Homo sapiens: one gene and its partners. Changing the gene in region 1 together with any one later gene gives a genetic interaction. Each region holds a gene or a part of one and is shown in the gene's direction. Other genes may lie near its edges.

Evidence for each region. Genes that interact genetically often act in the same process or in processes that back each other up.
Region 2: changes in GBF1 (region 1) and TMED10 together harm fitness more than expected from each alone (negative genetic interaction), as found in Homo sapiens cells (one study listed by BioGRID).
Region 3: changes in GBF1 (region 1) and PTPN6 together harm fitness more than expected from each alone (negative genetic interaction), as found in Homo sapiens cells (one study listed by BioGRID).
Region 4: changes in GBF1 (region 1) and XBP1 together harm fitness less than expected from each alone (positive genetic interaction), as found in Homo sapiens cells (one study listed by BioGRID).

The regions. Positions count from the first base shown.
Region 1 is NC_000010.11:102,252,032-102,255,531, forward strand, and holds part of GBF1 (Golgi-specific brefeldin A-resistance guanine nucleotide exchange factor 1), read left to right. Parts: intron 1-3,500. UniProt on the Homo sapiens protein: Guanine-nucleotide exchange factor (GEF) for members of the Arf family of small GTPases involved in trafficking in the early secretory pathway; its GEF activity initiates the coating of nascent vesicles via the localized generation of activated ARFs through replacement of GDP with GTP.
Region 2 is NC_000014.9:75,166,613-75,170,112, reverse strand, and holds part of TMED10 (transmembrane emp24 domain-containing protein 10 precursor), read left to right. Parts: intron 1-3,500. UniProt on the Homo sapiens protein: Cargo receptor involved in protein vesicular trafficking and quality control in the endoplasmic reticulum (ER) and Golgi.
Region 3 is NC_000012.12:6,954,356-6,957,855, forward strand, and holds part of PTPN6 (tyrosine-protein phosphatase non-receptor type 6), read left to right. Parts: intron 1-449; coding exon 450-639; intron 640-795; coding exon 796-912; intron 913-1,016; coding exon 1,017-1,130; intron 1,131-1,304; coding exon 1,305-1,401; intron 1,402-1,786; coding exon 1,787-1,866; intron 1,867-2,063; coding exon 2,064-2,213; intron 2,214-3,298; coding exon 3,299-3,430; intron 3,431-3,500. UniProt on the Homo sapiens protein: Tyrosine phosphatase enzyme that plays important roles in controlling immune signaling pathways and fundamental physiological processes such as hematopoiesis.
Region 4 is NC_000022.11:28,797,770-28,801,909, reverse strand, and holds the start of XBP1 (X-box-binding protein 1), read left to right. Parts: upstream 1-1,340; 5' UTR 1,341-1,385; coding exon 1,386-1,612; intron 1,613-1,832; exon of another isoform or gene 1,833-1,873; coding exon of another isoform or gene 1,874-1,950; intron 1,951-2,756; coding exon 2,757-2,853; intron 2,854-4,140. UniProt on the Homo sapiens protein: Functions as a transcription factor during endoplasmic reticulum (ER) stress by regulating the unfolded protein response (UPR).

The DNA.
Region 1 (3,500 bases):
TACTCTGCTAAAAAAGTGGAAAAAAGGGCTGGGCGCAGTGGCTCACACCTGTAATCCCAGCACTTTGGGAGGCCGAGGTGGGCAGATCACCTGAGGCCGGGAGTTTGAGACCAGCCTGACCAACACGGAGAAACCTCATCTCTACTAAAAATACAAAATTGGCCCGGCATGGTGGCGCATGAATGTAATCCCAGCTGCTGGGAGGTTGAGGCAGGAGAATCGCTTAAACCTGGGAGGCAGAGGTTACGGTGAGCCGAGATTGTGCCATTGCACTCCAGCCTGGGCAACAAGGGGGAAACGCTGTCTCAAAAAAAAAAAAAAAGTGGAAAAATAAATAAATAAATAAATAAGTGGTTTTAAGATTGTTCTTAGAACCACTGTGATATTCTGACTCCCTCATTGACTTTTGGATGGAATGAGTAAGGGTTTATCAGGTGGACAAGAGTGAGAAAAAACATTCAGAATAGAAAGGGAGCTTCATATGCAAAGGCAAAGAGGCAGCAAAGACCATGACTTTAAAAAGTAGGAATGATGTGGCGTGGTGGCCCACACCTATAATCCCAGCATTTTGGGAGGCCAAGGCAGGCAGATTGCTTTGAGCTCTGGAGTTTGAGACCAGCCTGGGCAACATGGCAAAATGTTGTCTCTACAAAAAATACAAAAAAATTAGCCAGGCATGGTGACTCATGCCTGTAGTTCCAGCTACTTGGGAGGCTGAGGTGGGAGGATCGCTTGAGCCTGGGAAGCAGATATTGCAGTGAGTCAAGATTGTACCACTGCACTCCAGCCTGGGCGACAGAATGAGACCCTGTTTCAAAAAAAAAAAAGGAACTTTTTAACTTTTTAGGGTCTTTTATTTTATTTTATTATTATTATTTTTTGAGCCGGTGTCTTGCTCTGCTGCCCAGGCTGGAGACCAGTGATGCAATCTTGGCTTACTGCAACCTCCACCTCCTGGGTTCAAGCAATCCTCCTGCCTCAGCCTCCTGAGTAGCTGGGATTACAGGCCCCTGCCATCATGCCCAGCTAATTTTTGTATTTTTAGTAGAGTGGGGGTTTCACCATGCTGGCCAGGCTGGTCTCAAACTCCTGACCTCAGTTGATCTGCCTGCTTTGGCCTCCCAAAGTGCTGGGATTACAAGCATGAGCCACTGCCCCCAGCCGAGGGGCTATTTTAGACAAAGAATATGTGTAGCTTATATGGGGCACCAATGGCTGCCACCCAGCTTGAAAAATAACATCACCAAAACTGAGGCTGCATGTATGTATGCCCTTCCCTGTTAGTTCCCCCACACTCCCTGCCGCTTGCCACTATTCTCAATTTTTTTGTGTGAGCTTCTCTGGGGTATAGTCCTAGAAGTGGAATTGCTGAAATATAGGATATGAAGTGCTTTAGCTTTGTAAGATAATGCCAAATTGTTATTCAAATTCATATTAATTTAGATACATACCAGCCACTTGGTCTGCATTTTTTACCAACTTAAAAACAATTTTTTTTTTGAGACAGGGTCTTACTCTGTTGTCCAGGCTGGAGTACAGTGGTGTGATCGTGGCTCACTGCAGCCTTGACCTCCTAGGCTCAAGTGATCCTCCCACTTCAGCCTCTCAAGTAGCTGGGACTACAGGCACATGCCACCATGCCCTACTAATTTTTAAATTTTTTGTAGAGATGGAGTTTTGCTATGATGCCCAGGCTGTTCTCAAACTCCTTGGCTCAAGTGATCCTCCTGCATCGGCCTCCTAAAATGCTGGATTATAGGCGTGAGCACCTGGCCTTTTAAGTATTATCAGATTTAAAGTGTTTTGCTATTTCAGGAATGTAAAGTGGTATATCATTATAATCTTATTTTGTAATTTTCCTGATTATTAATGAAGCTAATAATCTTTTCATATATTTATTTGCTGTTTATGTTTCCTATTCTGTGAAACACCTATTCATCTCTGTTGCCAATTTTGGGGAGGGGTTATATGTCTAGTTCTTATAGTTTTGTAGCAGTTATTGTATACTCTGGATATTACTCCTTTATATTAGTTATATGTGCCTCAAATATTTTCTTCTGGTTTGTGCCTTATCTTTTCCCTCTTTTTTATGTTGTCTTTTGAACAGGCATTTTTAATTTTAACATGGTTGAATTCACCAATTTTTTAAAGAGGTTTTGCTTTTTGTTTCTTGTTTAGGTACTTCTCCCTTATGCTGAGTTTATAAAAATACTCTCCTGTAGCCAGGTGCTGTGGCACACACCTGTTGTCCCAGCTACCCAAGAGGCTGTTGTGGAAGGATTGCTTGAGCCTAGGAGTTTGAGTCCAGCCTGGGCAACATGGCAAGACCCTATCTCTAAAAAAAAATCAAAAAGAAAATATTCTCATATATTAGCTTCTAAGAGATTTCAAGTTTTGCTTTTCATATTTAAATAACCTGAGATATATTTTTGGTATTCCATTAAATAAGAATACAATTTATTGTTTCTTTTTCTCCTGCTTTTGTTGGATATAGACAGAGTTGCCAAGTGATACAGTGACTCCTCTTTGGATCCTGTTGAGGTAACTGGGATGCCACAAAGCACTAGGGGAATGTTCTAGACCCAGCTTTAAATGGACAGTGGTTTCAAGGGTACATGTTACTCAGAGTCTCTGGGCCAGTGGCTTATCTGGCTAAGGGTGTTAGTTGGTATTTATTTAGTTGTTCCCTCTCTTATTTATTTTTTTCTATTAATTTTTCATTTGTGTGGGTACATAATGAATGTATTTCTCTTGTTATTTCTGACACAAGATAAATCTTAAGTTCGTTTCTACTATACTTTTATGAGGTTTCTGCAGGCCTTTATGACCTTGTGACAAGGGATTTCTTGGCCATTGGCTACCAGGCAGCAAGTGGTTCATCAGTTTCCCATCTGAAGCTGAAGGGCACAACTGTTTGGAGATTCCCTGAGTGAGGGGACATACTCAGAGACCTAGAAGGAGATTAGGCAGCTCTGCATAGTACTTGAAAATAATTCCTCTTCATTCCCTAGATGTTTCTTTTTTTTTGAGACAGAGTCTCACTCTGTTGCCCAGGTTGGAATGCAGTGGCGCGATCTCGGCTCACTGTAACCTCCACCTCCTGGGTTCAAGTGATTCTCCTGCCTCAGCCTCCCAAGCAGCTGGGATTACAGGTGTGTGTCACCACACCTGGCTAATTTTTGTATTTTTAGTTGAGGTGGCGTTTCACCATGTTGGCCAGGCTGGTCTTGAACTCCCAACCTCAGGTGATCTGCCCACCTCAGCCTCCCAGAGTGCTGGGATTATAGGCGTGAACCACTGCGCCCAGCCCTAGATGTTTCTTTTTTACAATGATTTTTTGCTTAGACCTTTGCTGTCTTAGAAAGTGGTTACTTCTTTTCTAAAGGGCTTATTCATTTTTAGTCAATCAGCTGATTAAAATTTAAAAGTAGTTAATAGGTAATATATGTTTGTGACACAAAATTCAAAAGGTAAAAAAGAATATACAGAGAAAAGTTAGT
Region 2 (3,500 bases), on another chromosome or scaffold:
TGGGACTACAGGCGCCCGCCACCACGCCCGGCTAATTTTTTGTATTTTTTGTATTTTTTGTATTTCACCGTGTTAGCCAGGATGGTCTCAATCCCCTGACCTCATGATCCGCCCGCCTCTGCCTCCCAAAGTGCTGGGATTACAGGCATGAGCCACCACGCCCGGCCGTTCCACTTTTTCTTATATTTTGACGACTGCTTCAAGGATTCTCCCTATGCATCATTTTAGCTTCTGGAGTGCAACTCCTAAGTGCCAGAGCTCCTTTTCATATGGTAGGCCACATTCTAGGTCTCAGTTCAGCCAATGGATTGTCTTGTCTTTGGTCATATTTCCACCCCTGCTTTAGGCAGCTGTGGTTTGATTTGAGGTAGGAGGAGAACTGGAGACTGGTGCAGAACCTGGCCAGCTGAGCTTAGCATTTGGTGGTTGTGCTGAATGAGGCAGTCTTTTTTTTGAGATGGAGTTGCGCTCTTTTTGCCCAGGCTGGAGTGCAATGGCATGATCTCGGCTCACTGCAACCTCTGCCTCCCAGGTTCAAGCAATTCTCCTGCCTCAGCCTCCCAAGTAGCTGGGATTATAGGCGCGTACCACTACTCCCGGCTAATTTTTGTATTTTTAGTAGAGACGGGGTTTCACAATATTGTCCAGGTTGGTCTCAAACTCCTGACCTCAGGTGATCCGCCCGTCTCCCAAAGTGCTGGGATTACAGGCGTGAGCCACTGTGCCTAGCCTGAGGCAGTCTTTCTTATAAGGGTCTCTGTGAATATAGTGCCTTGGTTAATCTGACTGATTCACCTTCTTTCTGTCTAGGAACATCTCAGTATCCAGTGAATGCACCTATGTTATCATATACCACTCTGTGTTGCAGTTGTGTATTTGCCCATCTCCTGGGATAAACTATAAGCTGCTTGAACAGAGACTAGGTTTCATTCATCATTGCAATGCTTGTCTAAAATAAGGCCTGGCACATAGTAGGACCTTATCCTAAGGAATTAGTGAACAGACGAGCAAGCACTGTCTTTGCCTCATCTCTGATCTTTCCCTCTTCCATTCTCTTTATTTGCTTCCTCCCACTCTGACTCTAGCTATACTGAACACCTTACAGTTCTTTGAATATAATGTTCTCTTTACCTGGATCAATGTTTGACTTTCTGTGTCCCCTATGTGTCCCATTGGCTTATAACTTCTTTTTTCCCCCTCACCAAAAGTTGTATGAAAAGATACTGTAGTACCATTACATCCTGTTTTACATGGCACTTTTCATGTAGTGTAGTGTTTACTTTGTGAACTCTTTAATGTCTTACTCATCTTTGTGTCTTTAGTTTAACGTACACATTGTTGTATAACTGAGTTAAACATCTTAGTCTTCTTGAGAAGCCTTGTGGTATGGTAGAGACTAGATCTGAAGTAAGATAGATTTGGTTCAGATCCCAGCAGCTCCACCATTTAAAGGTTATGTGGGTCTTGCAGGGATTACTTAACCCTTCTTCTCTGGTCCTGTTTCTGTAATATGGGAATCGTAGAGCTCATAAACTTGTTAGAAGGACTGATTGAGATGGGTGAGGTTTTTATTGTGCAGGGCCCATTATGGTGCTCCATAGATGTTAGTACTCTTTTCTTTCCTCTGTATTGAATGAAAATTGAATTGCTTCTCAGAGCCCCTCATGCTATATGTCATTGAAATAAGTAGATATGGAGTATTTTAATGAGAGGAATTATGAGTAGTTTGTGATTCTTTCATTCATTCAACAAATATTTATGTAATATTTAGTATGTGTCAGACCTGGCTGAGAATATGGGGATAAACGGGACAAGGTCCTCAAGCTCTTGTGGGGAACAAAGACAAAAAACAAGTTAAAATAATAGAATTTCAGGTAGTGATAAGCACTATAATGAAAGTTCAGGCACTAGGGAGTAGGGGGTGACTGATGGGTTAAAGGGTGTTTGAGTGGTCAGGGGAGGCCTTTCTGAAGCAGAGAGAGATAAATGGATTGAAATGATGGGTGGTCCTCTCCTGCAAAGATTTCTATTTCAGACCTATATTGAGATGCATTTTGTGTTAAGATCTCCAAACTGAGTCTATTCCATACTTCCCTACTCATTTCATAAAGTGAGGCTAAATCAGGCTAACTAGTGTCAGGTATAAAGACTTTGCTGCACATAATTGAAGCAGGAAGTATCAACTCGTCATTTACAGTGAATATAGAAGTTTCCTCCATTACTTCAGGTCCATAATAAAAGCCTGTTGTAGGGACTCAGAAATTTGGGTAATATTTTTATTATTATTTTGCTCTGGCTGGAGTGCAGTGGCATGATCATAGCTCGCTGCAACCTCGAACTCCTGGCCTCAAGTGATCCTCCCACAGCACTGAGATTACAGGCATGAACCCCTGCACCTGGCTGAAAATTTGGATCTTATACCAAGTTATGATTTCTGTCCTTCCCAACTAGCTTATAGATAAGAAAGCCAAACAGATCCCTTAAAGAGTTCAGCCTTGAATCACAGGCCTACCACAACTTAAGCCTAAAAATTATGAAGAAGTAACTTGGCAGTTGGGAAACTATTGGCTTATAACTTCTTTTTTCCCTCACCCAAAGCTGTATGAGAAGATACTATAGGCCAGGCATGAGGACAGAGAGGAGAGGGAGGAGGAAGGAGAAAAGGACAGTGGTGGGGGTGGGGGCGAGGAGGAGAAAAGAGAGAGAGGCAGAGGGGCGAAGAGGCAGGGGAGGGAGGAAGGAAGGAAAAGATGGTATATATGCTATAGTTTTCAGATTATTTTGTTTGGAATTACTGTATTTCAGCTTTTTTATTACTGGTATCTGTACTGAGGTCTGTTCTGTGCTGACAAGGAGAAAGAATAGGATGCTTCGGCTGGGCGTGGTGGCTCACGCCTGTAATCCCAGCACTTTGGGAAGCTGAGGTGGGTGGATCACGAGGTCAGGAGAATGAGACCATCCTGGCCAACATGGTGAAACCCTGTCTCTACTGAAAATACAAAAATTAGCCAGGCGTGGTAGTGTGCACCTGTGGTCCCAGCTACTCAGGAGGCTGAGGCAGGAGAATCGCTTGAACCTGGGAAGTGGAGGTTGCAGTGAGCCGAGATCACGCCACTGCACTCCAGCCTGGGCGACAGAGTGAGACTCCGTCTCAAAAAAAAAAAAAAAAAAAAGGAATAGGATGCATGTTGCTCAGTCATCGAAATGAACCATCCTTTTTATCAATAACGATCCCATGAACCCTTACTTATGCCAGACTTTTTCTGTAGGGAGAAATATGGCCCTTTCAGCGTGAATTTAACGTGACTGTTGTTCACTGGGTTAGAAACAGGTCAATAAATAGATGGTTCAGTACAGAAGGCTAATTGGTACATTGACATTTAATAATATAAATCGAATTTCTTTTTGTATTATATACAAAGTTCCTAGCTTTTAATTATAACTTGACCTTTGCGTCCTTCTCCATAAAAGTTAAAGGATACATTGCTTCATTTAAATCT
Region 3 (3,500 bases), on another chromosome or scaffold:
ATCCTTAGCTTCTCTCCTCCAAATATTTTGAATATTGCCAGCCTTTCTGCCTTTCAGAGGTGGGCTCTGGGTTCGAAGCCCGGTTAGAACTCTGGAGGCTAGGATGGCTTGAACCTGGGAGGTCGAGGCTGCAGAGAGCTGTAACCGCGCCACTGCACTCCAGCCTGGGCAACAGAGCTCTGGAAGCTTGCCCTAGAGTCAGTCAAGGGCCCTAGGCCAGTGAGTAACAGCTCAGCGTCAGTTTCCTCATCTATAAAATGGGGGTAATATCATACCTAGCTCTCAGCATGTTTGTGAGAGACCTAAATGAGGTGGTGGATTTGGAAGCATGTAGCGCAGTGCCTGGCACACAGTAGGTGCTTGATTTCCGGCCCCTCTCTGTGAATGTCTCTGCTCAGCGCCTTCCCCTGTGGCCTGGGTCTTACCTTCCCTGACGCTGCCTTCTCTAGGTGGTACCATGGCCACATGTCTGGCGGGCAGGCAGAGACGCTGCTGCAGGCCAAGGGCGAGCCCTGGACGTTTCTTGTGCGTGAGAGCCTCAGCCAGCCTGGAGACTTCGTGCTTTCTGTGCTCAGTGACCAGCCCAAGGCTGGCCCAGGCTCCCCGCTCAGGGTCACCCACATCAAGGTCATGTGCGAGGTAAGGCAGCCAGGCGGCGGGGGAGCCTCTGCTGAGGCTCCTGTCTGTGACCACAGTGTGGGTGGCAGGGAGGGTCTGCCTGGGCTTGAATTCAAGGCTGGGGACCCAGGGAGGGAGACTCAAGTCCTGTGAATGGCCTAATTTGGCTCCCCCCAGGGTGGACGCTACACAGTGGGTGGTTTGGAGACCTTCGACAGCCTCACGGACCTGGTGGAGCATTTCAAGAAGACGGGGATTGAGGAGGCCTCAGGCGCCTTTGTCTACCTGCGGCAGGTCAGGGGTGGGCCCAGCTGCCTCCCCACTTCCCCTGAGCTGTCCCCCAGATGTGAGCTTCTGGGATCTCTGAGTTGCTGACTTCTCGCTCTTCCCCACCCCAGCCGTACTATGCCACGAGGGTGAATGCGGCTGACATTGAGAACCGAGTGTTGGAACTGAACAAGAAGCAGGAGTCCGAGGATACAGCCAAGGCTGGCTTCTGGGAGGAGTTTGAGGTGCATGGTGGGGACCGGCAGGGCTGGGGCAGCTGAGGTGGTGGCAGCGGCCTGGGGCCCCAGGCGGACACCTTCCCCTCCTTGCCCACCTCTGCTCCTGACCCACCCCACGTGAGCTCCCCCGATGGATGCCCTCTTTGGGAGCTGATGCTCATTTCCCCACCCACATCTCAGAGTTTGCAGAAGCAGGAGGTGAAGAACTTGCACCAGCGTCTGGAAGGGCAGCGGCCAGAGAACAAGGGCAAGAACCGCTACAAGAACATTCTCCCCTGTGAGCACCCAGGCTGCCCCATTCACCCAGGATACCGCCCCTGCCCCAGCTGCCTCCCCTCATCTCACAGGTCTCCACCCTCCACGCCAGGAGGGGCCATCTCCCCACACCCCCCACAGAGCCTCCCCCTTCTCCAAAAGGCCTCTACTCCTCCCAGAAGTGCCTCCCCACCACCAGCAGGCAGGTTGCCCCCTGCTCCCAACCTCCTTGTGAACTCCCTCACTCCCTCCATACAGATGATCCCCCACCCCTGCTGCCCACAGTCCCCCGCAAGCCTCATGGCTTCTGAGACCAGAATGGCCTGTTAGCTCAGGAGGGTCTGACCCAGGTGTGGTGAGTCCCTGGCTAACCCAGACCATCTCGCCTCCTCTCCGCCCACTCCCAGTTGACCACAGCCGAGTGATCCTGCAGGGACGGGACAGTAACATCCCCGGGTCCGACTACATCAATGCCAACTACATCAAGGTCAGCAGTGTGGGCCACGTGGGAGGAGAGGCTGGGCCCTGGGAATTCCCTGTCTGGTGGGGGGACCCTAGATCCAGAGACAGCTGGGCAAAGCCGAAGCTGGCTTCTTGCATGGGTGAGGGTGGCAGTGGTTCAGGGCCTGTGCTGGGCCAAGGGGCTCACTGTCTTGGGGTGCGTCTCTCCACGCTTGCGTCCAGAACCAGCTGCTAGGCCCTGATGAGAACGCTAAGACCTACATCGCCAGCCAGGGTTGTCTGGAGGCCACGGTCAATGACTTCTGGCAGATGGCGTGGCAGGAGAACAGCCGTGTCATCGTCATGACCACCCGAGAGGTGGAGAAAGGCCGGGTAGGGCGCCCCCCCTTCCCCGCATCCGCCCCCGTGCTTGTGGTCATGCCATTAAGTCGAAGAGCAGTCAGATGCCAGGGCAGAAAGGGATCTCAGGGGTGAGGGTCCGGCCCTTGTTGGGAAACTGAGGGCTAGTGACAAAGTCTCGACTACACAACGTGACCCCCAGATCCCTGCATGCATCCCTGGGCTCTTCTGAGCTCCAGACCCAGGTTCCAGGCTGTCCTCCTTCCTCCTACCCCTGCCCCACCTGTCTGCATCCAGGCCCCTCCTGTCCTCCCTGCCCCATAGATCTCTCTGGAGTCTGCCCCTTACCCTGCAGGCTCCCCCTACACAGCACCCTCTGTGCTGCCATTGAAGTGATCCCATCCGTGACACAAACTGGGTCAAGTTCCTTCCTTTCTGAAATCTCTTCCATGGCTCCTGGTCACCTTTGGGATAAAGTCGCACTCTAAGGCCTGGCATTCAAGGTCTGGTGGCTTCCCTCTGACCCGCACGCTTCTCTTGAAGGCTCACCGCCCCCAGCAGCCCCAGCTCTTTCAGGTTCCCAGCCTTTCTTTGCACAAGCTCATTTTCTGCTAGGAAATGACTCTCTCCACACTATCTCTGCCTGGCAGATGCCTCGTTTTTGAAGACACAGCCGGAGCGCTGCCTCCTCTGTGAATCCAGGTCTTGTTTCCTCCAGGACCTAGAGGGAGAATTACGTCTTTCCCAGCCACGCTCCTCAGCGCGGTGTCTCCCCCGGTCACCTGTCTCTGTGAGCTCCTCGAGGCACAGGGGCACAGACTGGGTGTTATTTGTGTCTGTGAAGCTGTGTGGTTTGCACAGCTTCGGGGACAATGCCTGCCCTGGCAACGTTTGTTGAATGACAAACGGATGTACCGGTGAAGTGGCTGGCCAGGCCTCACCACCTGTTGGTGGTTGATCTGAGACGAGAGCCCAGGTCTCCTGCCTCTCTGCCAGCCCATCCGTCCATCCAACAAATGTTTGGGCCGGTGCCAGGCACTCAGAACATAGAGCAGGACCTGGGATGGGCCACAGTGCCCTGCTCTGTGCCTCATCCCCACCCGACCCTCCCTTTCCAGAACAAATGCGTCCCATACTGGCCCGAGGTGGGCATGCAGCGTGCTTATGGGCCCTACTCTGTGACCAACTGCGGGGAGCATGACACAACCGAATACAAACTCCGTACCTTACAGGTCTCCCCGCTGGACAATGTGAGTGGCCCCCACGCCCTGCCCCATTCCGGGAGTCCCTCCCTGGACTTGTTCTCCTCTCTGGTCGGGT
Region 4 (4,140 bases), on another chromosome or scaffold:
GGGGTTTCTCGGACTTCTCCATGTTAATATTCGTGTGTATAAATCGCTCCCGTGCTGCTCTCTGGGGGCCCCTCTTTCACAAACACCTGGCCACCCTCACGCCACAATGGCCAGGCAGGAACCTCGACCTCCCCTCGGAGAGGGGGCTCAGGGTCAACCCCGGGGTCTCAGTCTCTACATGTGACGTTTTCCTGTCCCCTCATTTAAAATAACAAGAGGCTGGGCGCAGTGGCTTACGCCTGTAATCCCAGCACTTTGGGAGGCCGAGGCGGGCGATCACGAGGTCAGGAGATGGAGACCATCCTGGCCAACACGGTGAAACCCCGCCTCTACTAAACTACAAAAAATTAGCCGGGTGTGGTGGCGGGCGCCTGTAGTCCCAGCTACTCGGGAGGCTGAGGCAGGAGAATTGCTTGAACCCGGAGGCGAAGGTTGCAGTGAGCTGAGATCTCGCCACTGCACTCCAGCCTGGTGACAGAGCCTGACTCCGTCTCAAAAAATAAGAAAAAAAAATAAAATAAAAATAATAGAGGCCGAAGCGGGAGGTTCACTTGAGCTCAGAAGTTCGAGATCAGCCTGGGCAACACAGTGAGACCTCGTTTCTATTTAAAAAATAAAATAAAACTAAATTTAAAAAAATGCACGCTCATAGTACAAACTTTAGAAATGGAACGAAAAACTAAAATTGAAGGTATTCCCCTCCAACCCAGAGATAACACCTATCGTTTATTAAGCCCTCACTATTGTTAAACTTAGTTTTAAAGGGCACGATCTCATTTCTTAAAGACTTCTATTCCGCAGAATTTCTTTCCAGGCTTTTTTCTTTTTCTTTTTTTGAGACGGAGTCTCGCTCTGTCGCCCAGGCCGGGGTGCAGTGGCGCGATCTCGGCTCACTGAAACCTCTGTCCAGTCTTTTCGAACCCAAGGCCCAACTGCGCTCTATCTCGACTTTCGGCTCCACTCGGATCCCGAAGTGGCGCACGAGATAAAATGTTGTCAGGCTGAGGTAATTCTCTGTTAGTCCCGGTAAAAATTCGTCAGTCTGGAAAGCTCTCGGTTTGGAATTAAATTCTGTCACTCCGGATGGAAATAAGTCCGCTTAAGGGGGGAAAATCCGTTTGTGGAGGACACGCTCCCGCACGTAACCCCCCGCGGAAAATGACCCCAAGTACCTTTGGCCAGGGATTGCCGCTGCCACGCCGGACTCCATAGCCACGGTCCTGAAACGCCCCGCCGGGCAGGCCGGACCAATGGACGCCGAGCTCGGCCGTGCGTCACGCGACGCTGGCCAATCGCGGAGGGCCACGACCGTAGAAAGGCCGGGCGCGGCGAGGCTGGGCGCTGGGCGGCTGCGGCGCGCGGTGCGCGGTGCGTAGTCTGGAGCTATGGTGGTGGTGGCAGCCGCGCCGAACCCGGCCGACGGGACCCCTAAAGTTCTGCTTCTGTCGGGGCAGCCCGCCTCCGCCGCCGGAGCCCCGGCCGGCCAGGCCCTGCCGCTCATGGTGCCAGCCCAGAGAGGGGCCAGCCCGGAGGCAGCGAGCGGGGGGCTGCCCCAGGCGCGCAAGCGACAGCGCCTCACGCACCTGAGCCCCGAGGAGAAGGCGCTGAGGAGGTGGGCGAGGGGCCGGGGTCTGGGGCCAGATCTGAAGCCGGGACTAGGGACAGGGGCAGGGGCAGGGGCTGGGAGCGGGGACCCAGCACTGGCCGCCCCGCAGGGCTCCGTCGCCTTTGGCCTGGCGGGTCGGTGCCAGCGTGGCGCGGGGCGGGGCAGGAAGCCCGGACTGACCGGATCCGCCACGCTGGGAACCTAGGGCGGCCCAGGGCTCTTTTCTGTACTTTTTAACTCTCTCGTTAGAGATGACCAGAGCTGGGGATGCGGGCACCTGTCTTCCAGGCCCTCTTGCTGTGTGGCCGCAGACTGGTGGTTCAGCCTCTTAACTCGGACATGAGGTCGAATAATCTGTTTTGGTTTACTGCTATTTCTGGAGAGGCGCGGAGCTGAAATAACAGAGCTGTTGAAAGGGCTGGGAATTCTGCGAGGCTCACTGGTCTAGCTCAGTATCTGCGTTCTTAAAATGGAACCTACTTCATGAGGTCTTTGGGGAGATTGAGACTTGGATATAATGTGCCTAGCACTTAGTCCTCCGTAAATGTTCACTCTTTTGTGATCATTGTGCCTTCTGTGATTTATGAAGTGTCTCTTCTGAGTTAATTCTTTTAAAAAAAAAAGTGTCTCCTCCAACAGACACGGACCCATCAGCAGGTCACTGCCTAGGATCTCAACACTAGAGATCAGGGAGTGGCATCAGCCTCTCCCTTTTCTAAATTGGACTGGGGGACGGAGGGTTGATGTCATAGCAAGATTGCAGCCTTCACTAGATTAATGAGGCCAGGTTGGATCCTGTTTAAGAGAACTGGAGACAGGAAGCAGCGGGGGAATAGATGGGGAAAGAGGAAAGTTCCTTATGATGCAAGATGAATAGTGTGTGTGTCCAGCCCCAGTGCTGTGACGGGGATGAGTCTGAGGTGGACGGATGATGCAATATAGGAGAGAATAAAGCAGGTCTTCGAGCTAGATTGACAGAAGACTGTATTTTTTATTTTGTTTTATTGAGGGGAGGAGCCTGAAGTGTATTTTATCATTAGTCTGTCTTATACTGTAAATAAAAATGAAAGCACCAGCTGGTAAAGTTTTCAAATAAAGACATAAATAAGGTTTGATATGACTCAGTGTGGTATGTTCCTTCTCTTCCTAGGAAACTGAAAAACAGAGTAGCAGCTCAGACTGCCAGAGATCGAAAGAAGGCTCGAATGAGTGAGCTGGAACAGCAAGTGGTAGATTTAGAAGAAGAGGTAAAACTACTTAAGGTCAAACTCTTTTATCCATTGTATACCCTTCCTTGGTGAATGTTCTGATATTTGCTTCCCATCCCAAGTTGTTTCAGCCCCTATTAGAATACAATTGAATATATGATTAAAAGTTAAACTAGGCTGGGCATGGTGGCTCATGCCTGTAATCCCAGCACTTTGGGAGCCTGAGTTGGGCAGATCACTTGAAGCCAGCAGTTTGAGACCAGCCTAGCCAACATGGTAAAATCCCGTCTCTACCCAAAAATATACCAAAAAAAAAAAAAAAAAAAAGGCCAAGCGTGAGTGCCTGTAGTCCCAGCTACTCGGGAGGTTGAGGTGGGAGGATTGTTTGAACCTGGGAGAGGGAGGTTGCAGTGAGCTGAGATCGCACCACTGCACTCCAGCCTGGGCAACAGAGTGAGACTCTGTCTCAAGAAAAAAAAAAAAAGTTTGCTGGGCACCGGGGCTCACACCTGTAATCCCAGCACTTTGGGAGGCCAAGGTGGGTAGATAACTTGAGATCAGGAGTTCGAGACCAGCCTGACCAACGTGGTGAAACCCCATCTCTATTAAAAATACAAAAATTAGCCGGGTGTCGTGGCAGGCACCTGTAATCCCAGCTGCTCCGGAGGCTGACGCAGGAGAATCACTTGAACCCAGGAGGCGGAGGTTGCAGTGAGCTGAGATCACGAGATCATGCCACTGCACTCCAGTCTGGGCGACAGAGCAAAAACCCTGTCTCAAAAAAAAAAAAAAAGTTAATCTAAGTTAGGACAGAGAGTTGGTGAAGTGGTGAAGCTTGTTGAGGGCAGAAGTGATTGACTTTGTGGCATTTGGTGCTAGATGTATCTCAAAGTAGATGGATTTAACAATGTTTATTGAGTTTGTAGTAAGAAATTAGCAAGGGCTAATAGGAAATAATTGCTTAAACTTTACATTCTTCCTGGCATGGCCAGAAATTCACTAAAGGTTCCTTTCCCCCTCTAGGGTCCACCTGTTAATCAATCTTAAATTGTTGCCAATTACACATCTTGAATACATAGAGATTATTTATATTGTTTTTTTAACCCCTTGGTCAATTTGCATATATTGAGCTTTTTAAAGTTTTAATCATTAGTTGGTTCTTCTAAGAATCATGAGTCAGGAGCAGGGATTTTTTTTAACTTATTTTGGATTTATAGTCACCACTACCACTTTTATTATTACCTGCCAGTTCAAGATAGTTATTTATTTTTATTTTATATTATTATTATTATTATTATCATCATCATTATTTTGAGATGGAGTCTC